Regions from separate parts of the Homo sapiens genome. Here region 1 is linked to region 2. Evidence: fine-mapped expression QTL. A gene starts in region 2. The other region holds a variant in brackets. All regions are shown on one strand. Distances are from middle to middle.

The links.
Region 1: its variant is fine-mapped to the expression of TOGARAM2 in skeletal muscle (GTEx, PIP 0.98).

What each region holds. Positions count from the first base shown.
Region 1 is chr2:29,010,164-29,019,394 of GRCh38, forward strand. It overlaps TOGARAM2 (TOG array regulator of axonemal microtubules 2), which reads left to right. Exons shown (of 20, transcript NM_199280.4): 7 at 1,292-1,338; 8 at 4,232-4,398; 9 at 6,991-7,141; 10 at 7,629-7,793. Among named protein-coding and RNA genes, the nearest start is that of TOGARAM2, 33 kb to the left of the region's middle. RefSeq lists enhancers at 999-1,128, 5,155-5,204. The variant T/C (reference allele first, on the strand shown) is at 4,757.
Region 2 is chr2:28,976,133-28,985,363 of GRCh38, forward strand. It overlaps TOGARAM2 (TOG array regulator of axonemal microtubules 2), which reads left to right and starts at 5,166. Exons shown (of 20, transcript NM_199280.4): 1 at 5,166-5,406.

The sequences.
Region 1 (9,231 bases), 34 kb after region 2:
ACCTCCATGAGCTCATAGAAGCCAAGGGCAACTGTGTGGACTTTGATGCTCCACTTCCCCTCCCCGCCCGCCTCCAATCCTCTTAGTGCCGTTGGGCAGTGGTTAAGCAGTGGTGGGTTACAATGGCAAAGGCCTAGTGGGCGAGCTCCCCAGGTCAGGGGTGCCCTGGAGCATTCGCTTACTATCTCCAGCCCACACGATCCCTCCCTGTGGGTCCAGACCCAAGAGGCTGGGCCTGGCCCTGGGAGCAATGGCGAATCCCGGCTGATCTACGCCCAGGTTGAAGCTCCGCTCCTCCTGTGGACTCCCCTGACCTCCACAGTCCCCAAGGATCAGGGTTCCCCTGCATCCAGGCAGGCACTGAGGGGGGCTGTCCTACCGCCCCTCCTGCAGCCCGGCCTGGACTGTGATCCTCTGAGGCCAGTGTGTGGGATATTGTGTTCCTGACCTGTTGCTGTGGCTTGTTACTCTGTCAGCCCCCCAGTGGGTCCTGATGTCCACCGAGAAGGGAAAGCCATGTAGGACGCTGCAGGGCTGGTCTCCATGGGAACCTGAGCTCCCGGAGGGCGGGGAGTGTCATGTCTTATTGATGCTCCATTCCCAGTGTCTAGAATAGTGCTTGACACATAGTAGGTCTTCAGTAAATATCTGTTGAATAAGTAAATGGTGCTTCCAACTTAAGAAATTACAATTAAAACCAGTGCCAGGGATGCCACTGTCTTCCCCCTCCTGTGGGTAATTGGGATTGAGCTTCTGGTACAAAACAGTGGTGACTTCCTGCCACAGCAAAGGGGATCAGCTCCGCCCCCCAGGCCCTGGGATGGGGATTACAATCACGAGTGGGACTATTTAGGGGTCACTGAGCTCTCACGGGGTTGGGGCAGCTTGGAGAACTTGAGCTCAGTGCTGTCTAAGCTGGGAGGCAGTTTACCCTTGTTTACTGCAGCTGCTGTCAACTCCACAGGCCCAAGCAGCACAGCGGGAGGGTGGGGGCTTCCTTTAAGTCAGCAGTTTCTGTGTGGGTGTCAGCCTCCTGGGGAATGCGCGAGCTGCACTGCCAGGAAATGGGGCTGAACCTGGCCTGGTGGTCAGCCTGCCCTTGTGTTTGCAGAGGGAGCTGTATCTCCTGCAGCTTGAATCCTGGGCCAAGAGCCTCTGCAGGGATAACAGTGCCGTCCCCTCTGTCCCCCATCTCGGCCATTGCCCCATCCTGGAGCCACCCTGGGCTCCCCCAGCAGTGTCTCTGGCTGGCCATCCCTCATGATGCTTTTCTCTCCCCCGTTCTTTTAAGATTGGCTCGGGGGAGTGGGCCTCGGGAGAAGACCCCTGCATCTCTGGGTACGTATCTTCCATGCACACCTCCCTTTGTTATTTGACTCTCTACATTCCTGGGCTGGGTCAGGGAAACAGAATTAGGGCCAGAGGAGATCTGAGAGCTCTTGTGTCTGGGCCCTTCATTTCACAGCAGGAAGCTGAAGTCACCGGAGGTCTAACCGGAGGGTGGCAGCGGGCCCGGGCGAGGTGTGGAAGAGAAGTGACATTTATTGACACCTGCTCTGGTACGTCAGGTGTGATGACGTACACCAGCTTGTGCAGCTTGCCACGGCCTCGATAAGAGAGACAATTCTGGCCGTGTGTGACAGACGAGCTGGCACACGAAGGCTCTGTGAGCAGGATGTCCTCCCTGGTCGCTGAGCCCCATCAGGCTTGCAGCCAAGTTTCCACGGCTCCAAAGCTGGGGTCTTGACACATCAAGCAGCTGCCCCTTGCGGTGTGTTAAGCAAGTAGAGAGAGTATTCCTCACCTAGAGAATGAGAGGGTAAACCAGAGCCCACAAACCTCAGCCAGCTGGCCCCAGGAGCTTTAGCTGTCAGGATATAGGGCCAGCACAGGATTGAGGCGAGGAGAGGGGACAGGGCAGGGTAGGAGGCCTTTAAAGAGGGAGGAGGGATCCTTCCTGGATTGAACTCTATGGGGAGGTGGGACGGGTGGATGGAAGCTGAGCCTCTGCTGCAGGGTTGGGGAGCAGAACACCCCGAACCCAGGCCAGGGTGGGGAGGAGTTGGAGGCAGCCGCTCTACTGCCCGGCAGGAGGGGTGGCCTCCCCAGGACCAGCTTCCTGGCAGGTCACTCTGCTAATCAGCTCAGCTGGTGGGGCAGTTGGCGAAGGGGGGTGGCTGTTGCCCAAGAGGCCCTGGGATCAAGACACAAAGCTGGACCTGGCACAAGAAACCTCTGCGGCAGCTGCTTCTCCCCTGCTCCCGGGCCAGGCTGCAGCAGGGTGAGCTCAGGCAGTCTGTGGCGAAATGCACCGGCACCCTGAGTGACCTTAAGAGCTAACCCGGAGGACGCTGGTGTGGGGGTTGGGCCAGGAGACCCCAGTCAGTAACCACTTCCTCCCCTGGCTCTCCAGCTTGCTGCTTGAGAACCAGGTCACCAGGGACCTGTGGCAGGGGCAGGCTGCTCAGACAGGGCTTTCCAGGGCATCCCTTTGGGGTGGAGGTGAAGAAGTGACATAAAAAATAGTTAAGTCCTTAAAGGGCTCTCTGCCCTCCAGCTGGCAACTGGGCTGACACTGCCCTCTGTGTGCAACATGCCTAGCACATGGTAGGGGCTCACAGGGTCTTGTCTGAAGCTGGGGGCTTCCTCACATCTGTGGCATTCCTGCAGTCCTTGCCCTGGCCAGGTGGTGCCTACCACATGTGCCCTCTGCTCTGCCTCTTACCTCTGGGCAGATGAGGCTTCAAAGCCCCTCTTCCCCCTTGGCCCTTGATCCTTCTCCCTGCACCAAGCAGAGGAATCCTTTGCAGAAGACATGGCCTGGGCAGAGGACCTGGGTGACCTGGGAGCTCTGCACGGGCCCCAGAGGTAAGATGCCTTTTCCAGCCTCAGGCAGCCTCAGCTGGTGGCCCCATCTCAGCAGACCCCTGACTTGCAGGTTCACCCAAGGACAGTGAGCTCCAAACCCTGTGGGTGGCAGAAAATGAATGAACCTGTTTGAGCCCTGCCTTCATAATGAGAAATGTACCTTTAAAATCCGCTGATGGGGAAGATATGAATGACAAAGCAATACTGTGGATTTGATGCCATCAAGTGGAAGTGAACGGGTATTTTATCCATCCCAAGAGCATTCGAAGGTTACTGGCTGTATTAGTCAGGGTTCTCCAGAGGGACAGAACTAGTAGGATATATGTCTGTATATAAAGGAGTTTATTAGGGAGAATTGGCTCACACGATTACAAGGTGAAGTCCCACAGGCGGCCATCTGCAAGCTGGGGAAGAGAGAGGCTGGTAGTGGCTCAGTCCAAGTTCGAAAGCCTCAAACCAGGGACGCCAACAGTGCAGCCTTCAGTCTGTGACCAAAAGTCCGAGAGCCCCTGGCAAGCCACTGGTGCAAGTCTCAGAGTCCAAAGGCCAAAGAACCTGGAGTCTGATGTTTAAGGGCAGGAGGAGTAGAAGGAAGCGTCCAGCAGGGGAGAAAGCAGGCAGCCAGAAGACCCGGCAAGCAAGGTGATCCCACCTTCTTCCACCTGCTTAGTTCTAGCTGCGATGGCAGCTAGCAGCTGATTGGATGGTGCCCACCCACACTGAGGATGGGTCCTCCTCTCCCAGTCCACTGACTCAAAGGTCGATCTCCTCTGGCAGCTCCTTCACAGACACACCCAGAAACAATACTTGACCAGCTATGTAAGCATCCAATCCAGATGGCACCTAACATTAACCATCACACTGGCTCTCAGCTTTTCCGTCTGTGAAATGAGACTGGACTAGTGTTAGATCTCTGGTCCTGGCAACTCTGCCCTTTCCTGCTGCGTCATGCTTTCAGGCAAGCCCATGGTCATATGAAAGGATTGGTGGGCCCATTTTGCTTTTTCTTTTCCTGCCGTACGTACCTCCCAGGACAGATACACTTACTTATATTCTCAGGAAATGTCTTACATCTCCTGGATAACACATCTGGCCCTGTTTCCCGCCCAGCCTCCCCAATCCCACACCTATCTTGGAATAAAGTGTGCAGTGAATGAACGAATGGAGGGTGATGCTGGTCCACAGGTAGTCTGTCTCATGCCTGCCAGTGCTGCCCTGTACAGTAAACCTAACTCAGGTCTTGCTCCATTGAGGAAGAATTGAGGGTGTGGGGCTTAGCAGTAGAATTGAGCCAGCCACAGGGTCAGTGAGCTCAGCAGTGACCTGGGTGTCTTCAGCTCCACCCCTGTTCTCAACCCCTCAGAGCCAAAACCTTTGGCCTCACCCATCAGAGACAGGCCTGCCGCTGCCAAGAAGCCTGCCCTGCCTTTTTCTCAGTCTGCTCCCACGCTGACAGCCTTCTCCTTTGACTGTGCCAGAGAAGCCTGCCCTCCGCTGAAAGAAGAGGACCAGAAGGAGATCGGCACCAAGGTACCTGGGGAGCGGGAGGAGGAGGAAGTGGGGCTGGAGTGGACCGCAGGCTGCAGGAAGGCAAGCAAGTGTCTGAAGTATTCAAGAGTGGGACCAGCCACAGAGCAGAGCAAGGAGAGCCCGAGGCAGCCACCCAAGTACTAAAGGCCAGAACCTGCAGACGGGGTTGGGGTGAAGGCTGAAGAAAGGAAGAGAAAGGATGGGGGTCAGAAGCGGGGTGGGGAACTAGGTGCAGGGAAGACTGCAGAGGGTTGCTGAAGGGGTAGGAGGGAGGAAGGAAGGAGGACGGGGAGGTTGCACAGGGCTCACGAGGAAGCCGGACGTGGGGAGAGAGCAGGAAGCCTTAGGTGAACTGCGC[T/C]GCGTGGTTTGAACTAACACCCAAGATAGCAAATGAGAGGCAGCTGACTCAGGGCTGATCAGCCACGGGCTGTGCTCCAGGGACTGGCGAATACCTCACACTTCTCAGGTGACCTTGGAAGGTGGTCTCTTCCCTGGTTGGAACGAATTTAGTGAAGCTTGGGGAGTCACTGTAGTGAGGAGCCTGTGCTCATTCTTTGAGACAGAACATTCCAGGTCAAGAAGCATATCTTGAAGGCCTCCTGGGTGCATATTCTCTGTTAGAGACTGGGTGACTGTTAAATCAGCACCACAACCCTCCCACTGTAGAGAGGACCACAGAACAGGAAACACAAACAATGATTCAGTGCAGCGAAACGAGCTGATCCTCCACCCCACTTCTGCGCTCCCTCCTGTGGCCACATCGTAGGCCTTGGCATTCTAAAGTGTGTCCCCCCACCATGGTCTCAATTTCAAGCATCCCATTGGCTCACCACCTTCTCCTGCTGTTCTGCTCAATCCAGCTAATCCTTCAGTTCCAACACTTGTTCCCTCTCTGGCATCAACAATATTCTCCTTGAAACAGGATCATTGCTATCAGCATGTTAGCTCTCTGTTACCTCTTTCATTTTAAGAAAGCGGAACAAAACCAAGAGAAAATGATTGCCGTGTCTCTCTTCTCTCCTTTGTCCACTCCTGACAGGCATTAGTCCACACTCCCCACTGAAACTGCCCACATTGGAGTTGCCAATGACCTTCATCTTCCCAAATGCAGCCACGGTTAGTCCTTGTCTACCTTGACCCCATCGCAGCTTTTGATACGACTTGTGTCTCATCCTTGAATTCTCCAGCCAGGGATAGGGGTGAGGGGTGGCTCTTTTTTGGTCCTGCCTACGTGAAAGGCAGCTCCTTCCCAGCCCTTCTTGGCTGCCTCCTCCTCATCTCCCCGGCCTCTGGATGCTGGAACTCCCCCAGCGCTCAGCCCTCTGGCCTCTCGTCTATTTATACTGACCCGCTAGGTCCTCATCCAGTCCAGACATTAAGTACCATCTCTATGCTGAGGACTCCCACACCTCCCTCGCCAGCCTAGACCTTCCCTTGACCTCCAGACTAACATGTTTAGCTGCTGCTCAATATCTCTGCTTAAGTGCCTAATTATACTTCCAACTGACTGTGTCTAAAACTCAACCCTTGAATGCTCACCTCAGAAAACCTCCTCTCTCCCCAGGGGCCCACTCAACTCCAGCCTTCCAGTGGCTCAGGTCAACCACCTCGGGCGTCCTTGGCTCCTCTCTTCCTCTCTCGCCCCGCACCTCATATATCAGCGAAGAGAGTGAGCTGCACCTGAGAAGCATGTCCAGAATCTGCCCACCCCACCATCCCCATCGCCGTCCAAGCCCCACCACCTCTTGATTGGATGTTCAGCTGCCTCCTAAACACTCTTCCTGCTTCCAGTGTGAGGCTAGCTCCAGACCCTTCCCGTGCAGCAGCTGGCATGAGCCTTAGAGAAATGGAAGTTAGAACGTTCTGTGGATGTGGAAGATATTATCACTGGGGAAGGGTGAAGGGAACACAGGAAGTCTTGGTTCTATTTTGACAACTTACGAGTTGTTCTTGCGTCTTAAACTATTTCAAAATAAAAAATTATAAAAAACAACACTTAGAGACAGCCCCCACCAGTGGAAGGCAGATCATGTCACTCCTCTGCTCAAAACCTTAAACGGCTTCCTGTGTCCTTCAGAGGAGAAGCCCAGTCCTTTCCTTGGCCCGGGTGATGTGGATCCTGCCCCCTGCCTGATCTTGTGTCCTGTCACTTCTCTGACTCAGAGAGTTCAGCCAGTGTCCACCCCCTGACTGTCCCCAACCAGCCAAGCACACCCGGCCTCAGAGCTTTTGCACTCACTCCCTCTGCTTCAAACACTTCTCTCCTAGAAATCTGTGGGGCTGGTCTCCTTCCTTTATTTCTGTCTCCACTTAAGCTTCACCTCCTCGGGGAGTCCCTAGGGACCTTCTAGGCTAAAAGCCACTATCATCTCTGTCTCCTTACTTTTCTTTCAGCACATACTGCCTGATATCAGCATTTGGTCTGTTTGTTGTCTCTCCCCCACACTTCAAAGCTCTTAAGGTGCAAGGAGTTTGTCTTTTTTGTTCACTTCCAGGACAGCAATTGGCACACAGTAGAAACATTTTTGATGATTGAATGTTGATGATTGAATGAATGGGAGGTTAATAGAGTTTGCCTTGACCTTGTGCCAGATCCAAGTCACCATCTCCAAGTCTGCCCGGGAGAAGATGCAGCTGAAGCAGATGAAGGAGATGGAGCTGCTTCGGAGGCTGGAGGAGCCCAGGACAGGGCAGGAGCTCACTTCCCAGTGCCTGGGCTCCCAGAGAGCCTTCATGAAGGAAGGTACTGGGTGCCTGGTGTGGGATTTGCTCAGGCCTGGGGAGCTGAGTCCACTCTCTCATAGCCTGCTGATGGGCCCATTTTCTTTTTTAAAATTTTTATTAGTATTTATGTATTTATTTAGAGATGGAGCCTCACTCTGTGGCCCAGGCTAAAGGGCAGTGACACAATCACAGCTCACCACAGCCTCAAACTCTTGGGCTCAAGGGATCCTCCCACCTCAGCCTCCCAAGTAGTGGGAAATACAGACGTGTGCTACCATGCTTGGCTAATTTCTTTTAAATTTTCTGTAGAGATGGGCATCTCCCTATGTTGCCCAGGCTGGTCTTGAACTCCTGGCCTCAAGCCATCCTCCTACCTCGGACTCCCAACATGTTGGGGGTACTGGCATGAGCTACTTTGGCCAGCCATGGGTCCATTTTCAAAGGAGGACATTGAGGCCAGGGGAAAACAGACCTGCCTAGTCCTAGGACTTTCTCTGTGTCCACAGGCCTCCTTCCCCTCCGGGGCAGCGGGACACTGTCTGTGCCCACTAGGCTGAGCGGCCCATGCAGAAACGACGTCAGCATCATCCTGAGGAAGTGGGCCAGCCGGGCCTCCCTGCCCAGCATCCCCATCAGCCGGCAGGAGCCCCGCTTTGCCCGCCACGCCTCAGGTGGGCAGGCCCGACTGGCAGGCACACGTGTCCCTCTGCCCATGCTGCCTCAGGATGCCCTGAGGCATGGCAGAGGTGACCTCGGTGGCTTTGCTTCCGCCCCTTGTCCATGTTAGACCAGGAGGCAGCCTGGGGTGGTGGTTGCCTTGCCAGAGAGAGAAACAGTGTCAGGGACTCATCATTGTCTACAGGCTGGGCTTGGGACCCAGGATGTCACAACTGGAGTTGTGATGTCCTCAGCCTGTGTGACATGTCCGGAGGAGTGACCAGTGCACGAGGGCCAAAGACACTAGACAATAGCACCCAAGGAAGCAGCTGTGAACAGCAGAAAGAGGATGAGAGGATTGGGGAAGACCTCGGTTTCTTTCCTGTTGCTTCATAAAATGTCAGGGCTGGACAGCACTGGCTACAGACAGGAATCAGAGGGTCCAGAGCTTCTACCAGGGCACCTCAGGAATCGTGCCTGGGACATGGGGACGCTCTGTCCCCATTCTACCAGAGGAGCTTCTATGTTGCCTCATTTTTTTTTTTTGTATACTGGGCATTCATGTGAGATTTCATTTGGAAAGATTTTGCTACTGAAAAAAACTTAAAAACAGTCAGCTTGGTTCAGAGTTTCTGTAAGTGTGGGATGTGATGGTAAATGATCATGGACTAGAGCATAATTTCCATGCTGTAAATAATGCCAGCTCATCTCCCTTTTCAATCCTCTTTCTATCCTTTCAATTGTCTCAAGTAGAAAGTCTGAATTTGGTGCTAGTCTTTAGCACCTCTTTTTTTATTTTTATTATTTTTTATAAAGAAAAGAGGTTTAATTGGTTCATAGTTCCACAGGCTGTACAGGAACCATAGTTGCTTCTGCTGCTGGGGAGGCCTCAGGAAACTTGCAATCATGGTGGCACCTCTCTCTTTAAACAAGGAGATCCTCTTTCAGGCTCAAAGACAGAAGCTGCCTACAAATTTTTTAGCTAGAGTTTTAACATTGTTTTACTTTCATTGTAAATATTTATCATATTCTATGACAAACAATGTTAGTTTATGGTAGTGACAGAAAGTTCCCTTTAAAGTTAAATTCTTTAGGATTTGAAATTCTTTTGTGATTTGAAGTGCAATGTAAATGAAAGGACAGGCTATTGAGAGATATGGCAAAAATCATGAAAGTGGTAATTGAATAATATGATTGATACTGAGAACTATTGATGTATATAACCCAACTGACTCTTTTTTTTTTTTTTTTTTTTTATGACAGAGTCTCACTCTGTCGCCCAGGCTGGAGTGCAGTGGTGCGATCTCTGCTCACTGCAACCTCTGCCTCCTGGGTTCAAGTGATCTTGCCTCAGCCTCCTGAGTAGCTGGGTGCATGCCACCATGGCCCGATTAATTTCTGTATTTTAGTAGAGATGGGGTTTCACCATATTGGCCAGGCTGGTCTCGAACT
Region 2 (9,231 bases):
GGCCGAGGTGGATGGATCACGAGGTCAGGAGATCGAGACCATCCTGGCTAACATGGTGAAACCCCGTCTCTACTAAAAATACAAAATAATTAGCCGGACGTGGTGGCGGGTGCCTGTAGTCCCAGCTACTCAGGAGGCTGAGGCAGGAGAATGGCGTGAACCTGGAAGGCGGAGCTTGCAGTGAGCTGAGATCACACCACTGCACTCCAGCCTGGGCGACAGAGTGAGACTCCATCTCAAAAACAACAACAACAACAACAACAAAAACCCATCAAATTCTTTTTTGCCATTAGCTTCTGGAGTTATTTACTCACCTATTAACTCCTCCCCTCCCCCTGCCCTCCATCTCTCGAGCTTTCCTGTGGCTGTGGGGCAGGGAGCTGCTCTTCTCTGACACGTCCTTTTGTGGAATGGGGAGAAAGGAGGGAGAGGCACACCCCATGTGAGATGAGGGGTTGGCTTCTGTTGGGAGAAGCCCTGAAGGGCAGCTGGGGCCAGAAGCAGCATAACCAGAAGGCGTTAGTCCCCATCCTGTCATTACCACTGAATTCCTGTGTGACTCCATCATCTGCGATAAGAGGGGCTTGGCCTAGTCCTCTCTCTGATCCTGTGCTTAGGTTGCATACATTATTCTAGAGTTTCCCAGGAACTTCCCAGGGAACACGTCAGCCCAGTGGCAGGTGCTGGTTGGGAGGGGCCTGTTCTGTGTCCTTGGCAGTGTCTGAGCACCCCCACCCAGCCTGTGGTACTGACAGGGCCTTTCAGGCTCTCCAGGCTGGGGCTGGCCTTGGAGGGGGTGGGGCAGTGGTATTTTGGGAGATAAGCCAGCACAGTGTCAGTCTGGAGGCAGTGCCAGCTTGCCTCCATTATCCGCTTTTCTACCTGGGGGGGCGTGGCCTGTGAAGGGATGGGGGGCTTCCAGCCTTTCTCCTCAGCCTGGGCCAGGGCCCAGGACACAGGGCATCAGGGCTCTAAGGGACCAGGAGGTCACCCAGTGTCTGATCACAAATGACAGTTTGGAAGCCCAAGGAGGGCAGGGACTTGTTGGAGGGCACACAGTAATGGTGACAAAGTCAGGACTGGAACCAACTCTCTGTCCACTTGCCTGGAACCCTTGGCCATGCCCTATGCTAACCATCTTTAGCCTGGGGGCACCTTATCCTGAGGGATGGGTACCTGAGACAGAGATGGGGGAGGCGCCTGAGCATACCACCTCCTAGGGTCCCTACCAGGGGCCCTTGCTCCCCATGCTCCCTGGGATCTGACCTCCAGCTAGGCCTGGGATGGTCCTGGTTTATAAGGGGGCAACACCAGCCCAGGGGGTCAGAACTCCCCCTACCTGTTCCCTGCCATACAATGTATGGGGCTGAGACTCTGGTCTGCAGCTTGGATCTCAGGTCTGGTCCTGGAAGAAGCGGTGAATGTTGCAGGGGCGGGGGCTTCTTATGCCGCCAGCCACTTCCTCTCCCCACGTGCAGTCAGGTTGGTGTCGCTCTCTCAACACCCATGTGGAACCTGGCTGGCGCTGGTTCCAGAGATATAAGGCATGAATCCTGCCCCCAAGGAGCTCACAGTCTAGGTCTGTGTGGCTGGCTGGTGGGCCAGGAGAGGGGCGGGCAGTTACAGTCAGCGGATGAGTGGTGCTGTGATAGGGAAGTGCTGGCCCTAGAAAGGCAGATGAGAGGCACCTCTTTTCTAGAGAGTCAGTAAGGACTCCCCTTGGGAGCACGTGGGTGGGAATTGGCCAAGGGAGATAGGTATAAAGTGTTTTTTTTTTGGTTGTTTTTGTTTTGAGATGGAGTCTCATTCTGTCATCCAGGCTGGAGTGCAGTGGCACAATCTCGACTCATTGCAACTTCTGCCTCCTGGGCTCAAGCAATTCTCCTGTCTCAGCCTCCTGAGTAGCTGAGATTACAGGCATGCGCCACCATGCCCAGCTAATTTTTGTATTTTTGGTAGAGACGGGGTTTTACCATGTTGCCCAGGCTGGTCTCGAACCCCTGGCCTCAGGTGATCTGCCTGCTTTGGCCTCCTAAAGTGCTGGGATGACAGGCGTGAGCCACCGTGCCCGGCCGGAGATGGGTATAAGTAAGGGGTAGGAAGGGATATGGGAAAGGCTTTTGGGGTGGAGGGAACAGCATGAACAAAGGCCAGGAGAGGAGAGGAGCATGACAGCTACATCCCAGAGCAAGGGGAGAAGACCCCTCAGTGAAGTCCCTGCTAATAGCCCAGCTACGTGTTCAGGAGACTATTTGGATATAGGATGCTCAGGTCATTTGCAATGGGAAGTGTGTTCAGGGTATCTAGTCCTTCTTGTTGCTAGACATAGAAACAGCTTTGTTCACTTTACAAATCAACAAGGGCCAAGAGGACTCTTGGTGACATTTTTACTGAGGGAACAGGATCAGAATTTAGTAGTCTTCCACTGACCAAATCCATCAGCATGGAAAGTTATAGAATGTTGGTTTCTGAAATCTTGAGTAGATTTCTGGGGTAGATGGGGGCTATCCCCTGTGGATGTGGAGGGGGCTACTTATTTGGTACTTTCAAGAGCCCTCTTCCCAGCTTGTGATTCTGTATTGTGAGTCAGTTTAATTCATTCACATCAAGTATTTGTTCATCGGTTCTGGGGGTGGGAGCAGGCCAGTGTGAGCACACCCAGGAGAGTCGGGGCAATGACTGGGAACACTGGGCACTGGAGGAGACAGGTGACATCTGGTTTCCTTCATAGCTGTTGACCCTCTTCCGAGGGTCTGGCCGCCCTTCCACCAGGGGTCGATACAGGCTTTGTGAGACTCGAGGCTTAAACAATTTGGGGGCTTCTTTAAGAAAGAAAACAAAATTAAGTATGAAAATATTTTTTTAGAATGAGAAAAGAAGTCACAACAAATGACTGAGGGCTGGATTCGTGTCCCTTTCTTTCTGAGGTCTCTTCAGGGGAGTTCCAGAGAGCTTCCAGGTGGCAGCCTGGCTGCCCTCCCCACCTGGAGTGCCCCAATCCTTCCAGGCAGCTCCTGGCTCCCCCAGAGGCCCGGGGCTCAGGTTGTGTTTGCCTCAGCGGTTTCCACCCATGCTCCTCGACTGGCCTGCTCCTTACCTCGGGGATTTCATGTGGATGTCACACCTCACTGCCCCTGGGATTCGCTCTCTGTCCATGGTCACAGTGAGGGTGAGTGCGTGCTCTGTGCCTGGCGGGCACACTGAGGGTCACTGGAGCCACCCCAGGGAGGGAGGATCTGCAGTCTTCCTGCTAGGCATATGAAAGAACCAAGACTCAGAGAGTTTGTTTCTTGCCTAAGATGTCATTGCTGGGATCAGAATCCAGTCTGGAATCCAGGGGCTTCAGAGCCCTGGTTCTTAAGGGCTGTGCTGTGTTATCCATCCTCCCTTATTGCAGGTAACACAGGAACAAGCAGGGGGTTACCTGCTGGGGCCTCTCTCCATCACTCAGCTCCTGAGGGCAGGCTGTGCTGCCTCCTGTGTCTCTAGCATTTGGCACAGAGCATGGCCAGCCCACCTTGGGAACACATAATGCTCGGCCATCCAGTGGAGGCAGAGTGTGGAGAGCCCAGGAGCTGAAGGAGGATGCAGTGGGGCCTGATTAGAGGGGCTTGGCAGCCATGGTGCTAAGTCTGGCCCTTACACCAAGGACAGCAGGGGCCATGAGGGGTGTCCAGCAGGGCACGGCCATCGGATCTGTGTTCTAGAAGCTCCGACTCAAGCAGCGACATGCAGATGGGCTTTGGGGGAGCTGCACACACACCATCTCCCTGCCAGAGCTGAGGGACACCAAAACCTGCCTTGTCACGTCCCCGCCCTGGGTTCCCATGGTTGAGTCGCTCTCACTCACAAGCTGTGTGGCTTGGGGCAAGGGCTTAACTTGCCAGGCCTCTCTTTCCCCACCTGGGCATCTTCATACCTGTCTCCCAAGGGGAATCCGCACAGCCACTGTTCCTGGTTTGGAGGAAGAGTCTCCTTTCTGGGCCTCTGCTACAGGGAGTTCAGGAGTTCCGTTCGCCTTGTCAGCTGTGACCTCTGGCTTGGGGCCAGCACCTGCCCCAGAGGGACCTTGTTCTCAGTCATAATTGGCTGGCCCTCCTTGCTCCCTCCTGGATCTTGGTAAATGACAGCAGCTACTCCCAAGGCCTGCCCTCCCTGGCCATCTCAGGGAAGAGGAGAGAGTCCCAGGAAGGAGCTACCCCGTGTGCAAGCATTTCAGCAGCCCAGGCCTCGTGGGGTGTAGTTGGCCTCCCACCAGCCATCCCTGTGTGTTCCACACACCTGCTGATTCCTTTGTACAGAATATGGGGAGGAGCTGCCTGGGAAAATTCATAGTATCTTTGGGCGAGTGGCTGTTTGCAAGCCTGCATACAAATTGAGTCCTTGGCTTCCACTGTGTGCCCCCTGGATGGTGAGGGCTAGAAGGGGGTAGCATGAGGAGTGGGACTGGCTGTCATTCCAGAGAGAGGATGCCAGCCTGGGATTTCCGCCCAAGAGCCTGGGTTCAGTGAGAAAGTACACATGGGCTGCTAGGATTCACATTTTCCAAAAGTTAAGGTGGAGAAATCTGGTTGGGACGAAGGCCACAGGCTTTCTGCTCTGCAAGGATTTCTGGGGAAGTGATGGAGAGCCTACCAAGTGCTAGACAAAATTACAAGCTGTTACATGCACCTTTGAAATCCTTACAGCAACCCTATCAAGTCAGTACTATTGGTGTACCCATTTTATAGATGAGGAAACTGAGGTCAAGAAAGGTAAAGTTCTGACCAGAGGGCACACAGCTGGAAGTAGCAGGATCAGGATTCAAACCCAGCTGCCTGCTGCCAAGGCCTGGATGCTCACTCTGTCTTTCTGCCTCTAGGAGAGTTAGTAAACAGAAGCAGATTGAGCCCAGAGGCCATGTGAGCAAAACCAGGAGTTCTACCAACAACATCCCTGCACCAAGCCAGCTATGCACTTCCTGGCTGCAGTCACCAGGCAGGGGGGCCCAGTGCTCTCTCTTTCTGTGGTGTCCATGACCCTAGAGGACAGGTCGGCCACTTGGTAGTGCCTGTGCTCCGGTGAGCCACAGAGGCAATGAGACCAAGGGGAAAATCTCTCGGCTCGGTCTCTCCCCCGCGCAGGGAGCTATGGGCTCCTTCAGCGAGTGGTTGCTATGCAGCCTTGTTTATTCAAGGAGAGCTTTGCTGAGAGCTGGAGCACGCCAGCAGTGGAGCTCGTGGCCACCCAGCCCCTGCTCAGACAGGAGGCTGCGGCCCAGGACTGTGTGGCTGGTGGGGGCCAGGGTGGGCCAGGCCTGGGGCTGCCCCGTCCTTGCCTCCCTGGGCCCATGAGCATCAACGTCTCTATAGAGACCAAGGACCCTGGATTCCTCCAGTGACAGGGGTTTGGCCTCTGGACAGAGAGGTGAGAGACGATAGGTCCACCAAGCCATCTATTGTAGGTGGTGAATGGGAGGCTGGGTCAGGACCCCTGAAGTCCCTGGAGGGAGGGATAAAGACCTGAACTGGAGCAAGCACAAACACACAGAGAAAGAAAAAGCATCCTGCTGTGACTTGGAGGCTGTGTGACCGTGGGGATGTCTCTGACCCTTTCTGGGCCTTCATGTGGCAGCTCTAGGGGAGGAGGTTGGACTCACTGTTCTCTGAGCACTGGGAGCCAAGGAAGGAGGGGCTGGCCTGGGCTGACCCCTTCCCCGAGTCATGGCCTCTGTGGGCAGTGCTCTCTACCTCAGGGTGAACCCTTCACAGGGCAACAGCTCCCTGGGGTGCTGTGGGCGATGGTGCCGGGAAGGGTGGGGGCATGCTGTGGGGATGGCACCCGTGCTTAGGGGTGCTGGGGCACCCCGTGAGAGCATAGGCCTTGGAGGGGCTCTGCTCTGGGTTTGAATTCTAACCCCCCCTCTTTCTGGCTGTGTGGACTTGAGCTCTTTGCCTCTCTGAGCCTCAGGTTTCTCATCTGTGAAGAAGGGTTTAAAAAAAGCCCCCTTGGTGCTGTCTGTGAGCATGGAGACAGTCAGGAGGGCAGCTGGCACGTTAGCCCATGCGCAGAATGGAAGTTACTGTTTGTTGTTGATGCTGTTGTTAGGTGGAGATTGGCATGTTCCTTTCTGGAGCACATTTCAGTCTCCTGAAACTAAGGTTTTGCCAGTCACTTCTCCAGGACAAGGGCTGGTGCTGGCGGGGGACCTCAGAGGGCTGCCATTTCCTCAGGAGCGCTGGGAGGGGAGGGACTGGGGCCCGTACTCTGTCGGAGCATCACTGAGGCAGGCCACAGGGCATTGGTGCCTGGCCCCAGGAAGTGGTGTGAGGGGCCCATAATCGCTTCTATCCTGAACTGGGCAGTCCCTCGCTCTTCTCACCAATGCCCTGCAGGAGACGGCCCTGCAGCCTTCTAGCCACAGGCTGGCTCCCAGGACTGGCTCAGTTTCAGCCCATGGAGCCTGAGACTAACAGATTTGAAGAAAGGGGGAGGTAGTTGGGGGCAAGGGATGGGGAGATGTCAACCTGAGCTCTGGAGAGACCTGCCTCTGAGGGCAGCGCATCCTCCCATTGACCCCACGGCTACCTCAGAGGCACCAGACTCTGCTCACTAGCACAGAGGCTGGAAGTTTATTATTGCAGACAGAAGAATGCATAAAATGCATGCAGTGTGAGGAATAATTATAAAGTGAATGTCCATGTAGCCACCTCCCAGGCCAAGAAACAGAAAAACTGGCCGCCTCCCAGAACCCACCCCCGTGGGCCCTGTCCTTATCACAGCTGCCTCCCTTCCCCTTAGGGTTAATCATGCTACTAATTTTTCCTTGATTTTCTATCAAGTTTTCCATCTATGTCTGCATTTTTATTTTAATTTAATTTCGCTTCATTTTTTGAGACAAGGTTTCACTCTGTCCCCCAGGTGGGAGTACAGTGGCATGATCTCAGCTCACTGCAACCTCTGCCTCCTAGGCTCAAGTGTTCCTCCCACCTCAGCTTCCCAAGTAGCTGGGTGTACAGGTGCACACCACCATGCCCGGCTAATCTTTGTGTGTGTGTATATATAAATATATATATATATATATATATTTTTTTTTTTTTTTTTTTTTTTTTTTTGTAGAGATGGGTTTTTTCCATGTTGCTCAGCCTGGTCTCGAATTCCTGGCTCAGGTGATATGCCTGCCTTGGCCTCCCAAAGTGCTGGGATCACAGGTGTGAGCCACCACGCTGGGCCTATGTATGCATTTCTAAACACTCGATGTAATTTTGTCTTTCTTTGAACTTTATAGAAGTAGGGGCATACCCTGTGTGGTCTCTTGGGTCTGTCTTCTTTCACTAAACATTACGCTGTGGCATCGTCCATAGTGTTGAGTGGGGCAGTCGTTTGTTTCATTGCTCTGTAATATTCTATGTTGTGAGTGCACCATGATTTAGTCCTTCATTTTCCTGTTGGACATTTAGATTTTTTCCAGATTTTGGCCATTATCCATGGCACTGCTCTGGACACTCTCGAGCTCCTTTCCTGGATCACCTGTGCAAGACTTTCTCAAGGGTGGGTTCCTAGGAGTGGAATTGCTGAACATTAGGTTTGTGCATTTTTAGCTTTATCAGGTAAAGCCAGACCACTTTCCCAAGGGTTTGTGCCCATTTGCATCTCACCTGCCAGCTGTCATGAGTGCTCCCATTGCTCTGTGCTCTCACTAGCACTTGGCATTGCCGCCCATCTCAATTTTTGCCCATCTTTGTGGGATGGTGGTAGCATCTCATTTGCATTTTCTTGATTACCAGGGGGTTGAGCATCTGCCCCCAGCCATTCTTCCTCACCTCTTTCCTCCTCTGTTGGGTGCCTCCCTTCCTCTGCTCTCTGTGATCTCAGCCCCTCATGGTGCTCAGGCTTTTGAGCCCCATTTTTCTCTCTGCCCTCCCCACTCCTCCATCCCTCTCCTCCATTCTTCTTCTTGGAGAACCAATCACTATTCCACATACTTCTTAGTGTTTGAATTACAGACCCAGGCTCCAGAGCCACTGTCTGGAAGTCTGAGTTTCCCATTTCGTGTTTTAAAACCTCTGGTTCTTGGCCCAACTCACATCCCTTCCTGGGTCTTGGATTTCTCTTCAACAAAACAAAGACAGAAAAAAAAATGTCCCTCCACAGAAGCCATTTATATTTCCCAGGCAAAACCTGGTGTATGTCCTGGAGAGGCACACACAAAACTCTGGCTCCTATTCAAGAAAGTCGGCTTTCTCATGGGCCATTGGGAAGGGACAGGGCCGGGGTCTGAAGTCTTCTGAGCTTCTTGCAGGGAGGCCTTTGCCAAGAGCCCTTTCCTGGGGTGTGACAGACATTCAGATGCTAGAGTCATGCCAATACACCTTTGCTGAGACTTTGGACAAGATGCTTTCTTGCTTCCTAGTCCCTTCTGATCCTCTGAGTACATGTGCTTGTTTACAGTCTACAGTTTGAAGATTCAAGCTCCTGCTACTGGGCAGGAATCCTCAACTGATCAGCCAAACCCTGCAGAAGGCATTCCTGGGGCAGTGGACCAAGCCATTTTTCATTCGAGACTCCAGGACTATGATCAAGTGCTAGGATAACTCTTACCTTGATGGTGGAAATCTCAGGGCCAGCAGAAGACTTCCAAGCCCCAGCCAATGGCTGTGTGATTTCAGGCAGGATTGATGCGGTGGTATCCTACCCCTCCCAAAACCTTAATCCTTGGGAGCACACTACACAGGCTCTGACCAGGCACTGTAGTGGCAAGGTGACCATTTTGGGGAGGCCTTGATGGGAAGCTGGAAAAGGAAGCTTTCCTCCCAGTCCTGCTGAAGGCCTTGCCAGCTGGCAGCCAGTGTGATGCCTATAGGGGTATGGGCCCTGGGATAGGTATTGGCTCCTGATGGCCTTATGTAGGTGTTATAGACTGAATGCATGCGTCCCACAAATGCAAATGTTAAAGCCTAACCCCCCATGTGTTGGTATTAGGAGGTGGGGCCTTCGGGAGGTAATTAGATTCAGATGAGGTCGTGAGGGTGGTTGTCTCATGATGGGTTAGTGCCCTTAGAAGAAGAGACCAGAGAGCTTGCTCTCTGTCTCTCTCTCTGCCATGTGAGGACAAAGGGAAGACAGCTACCTGCAATCCAGGAAGTGAGTCCTCACCAGGAGTGGAATCAGCTGGCACCTTGATCTTGGACTTCCCAGCCTCCAGAACTAAATTGCTGGGGTTTTTTTTTTGTTTTGCTTTTCATTTTTTTG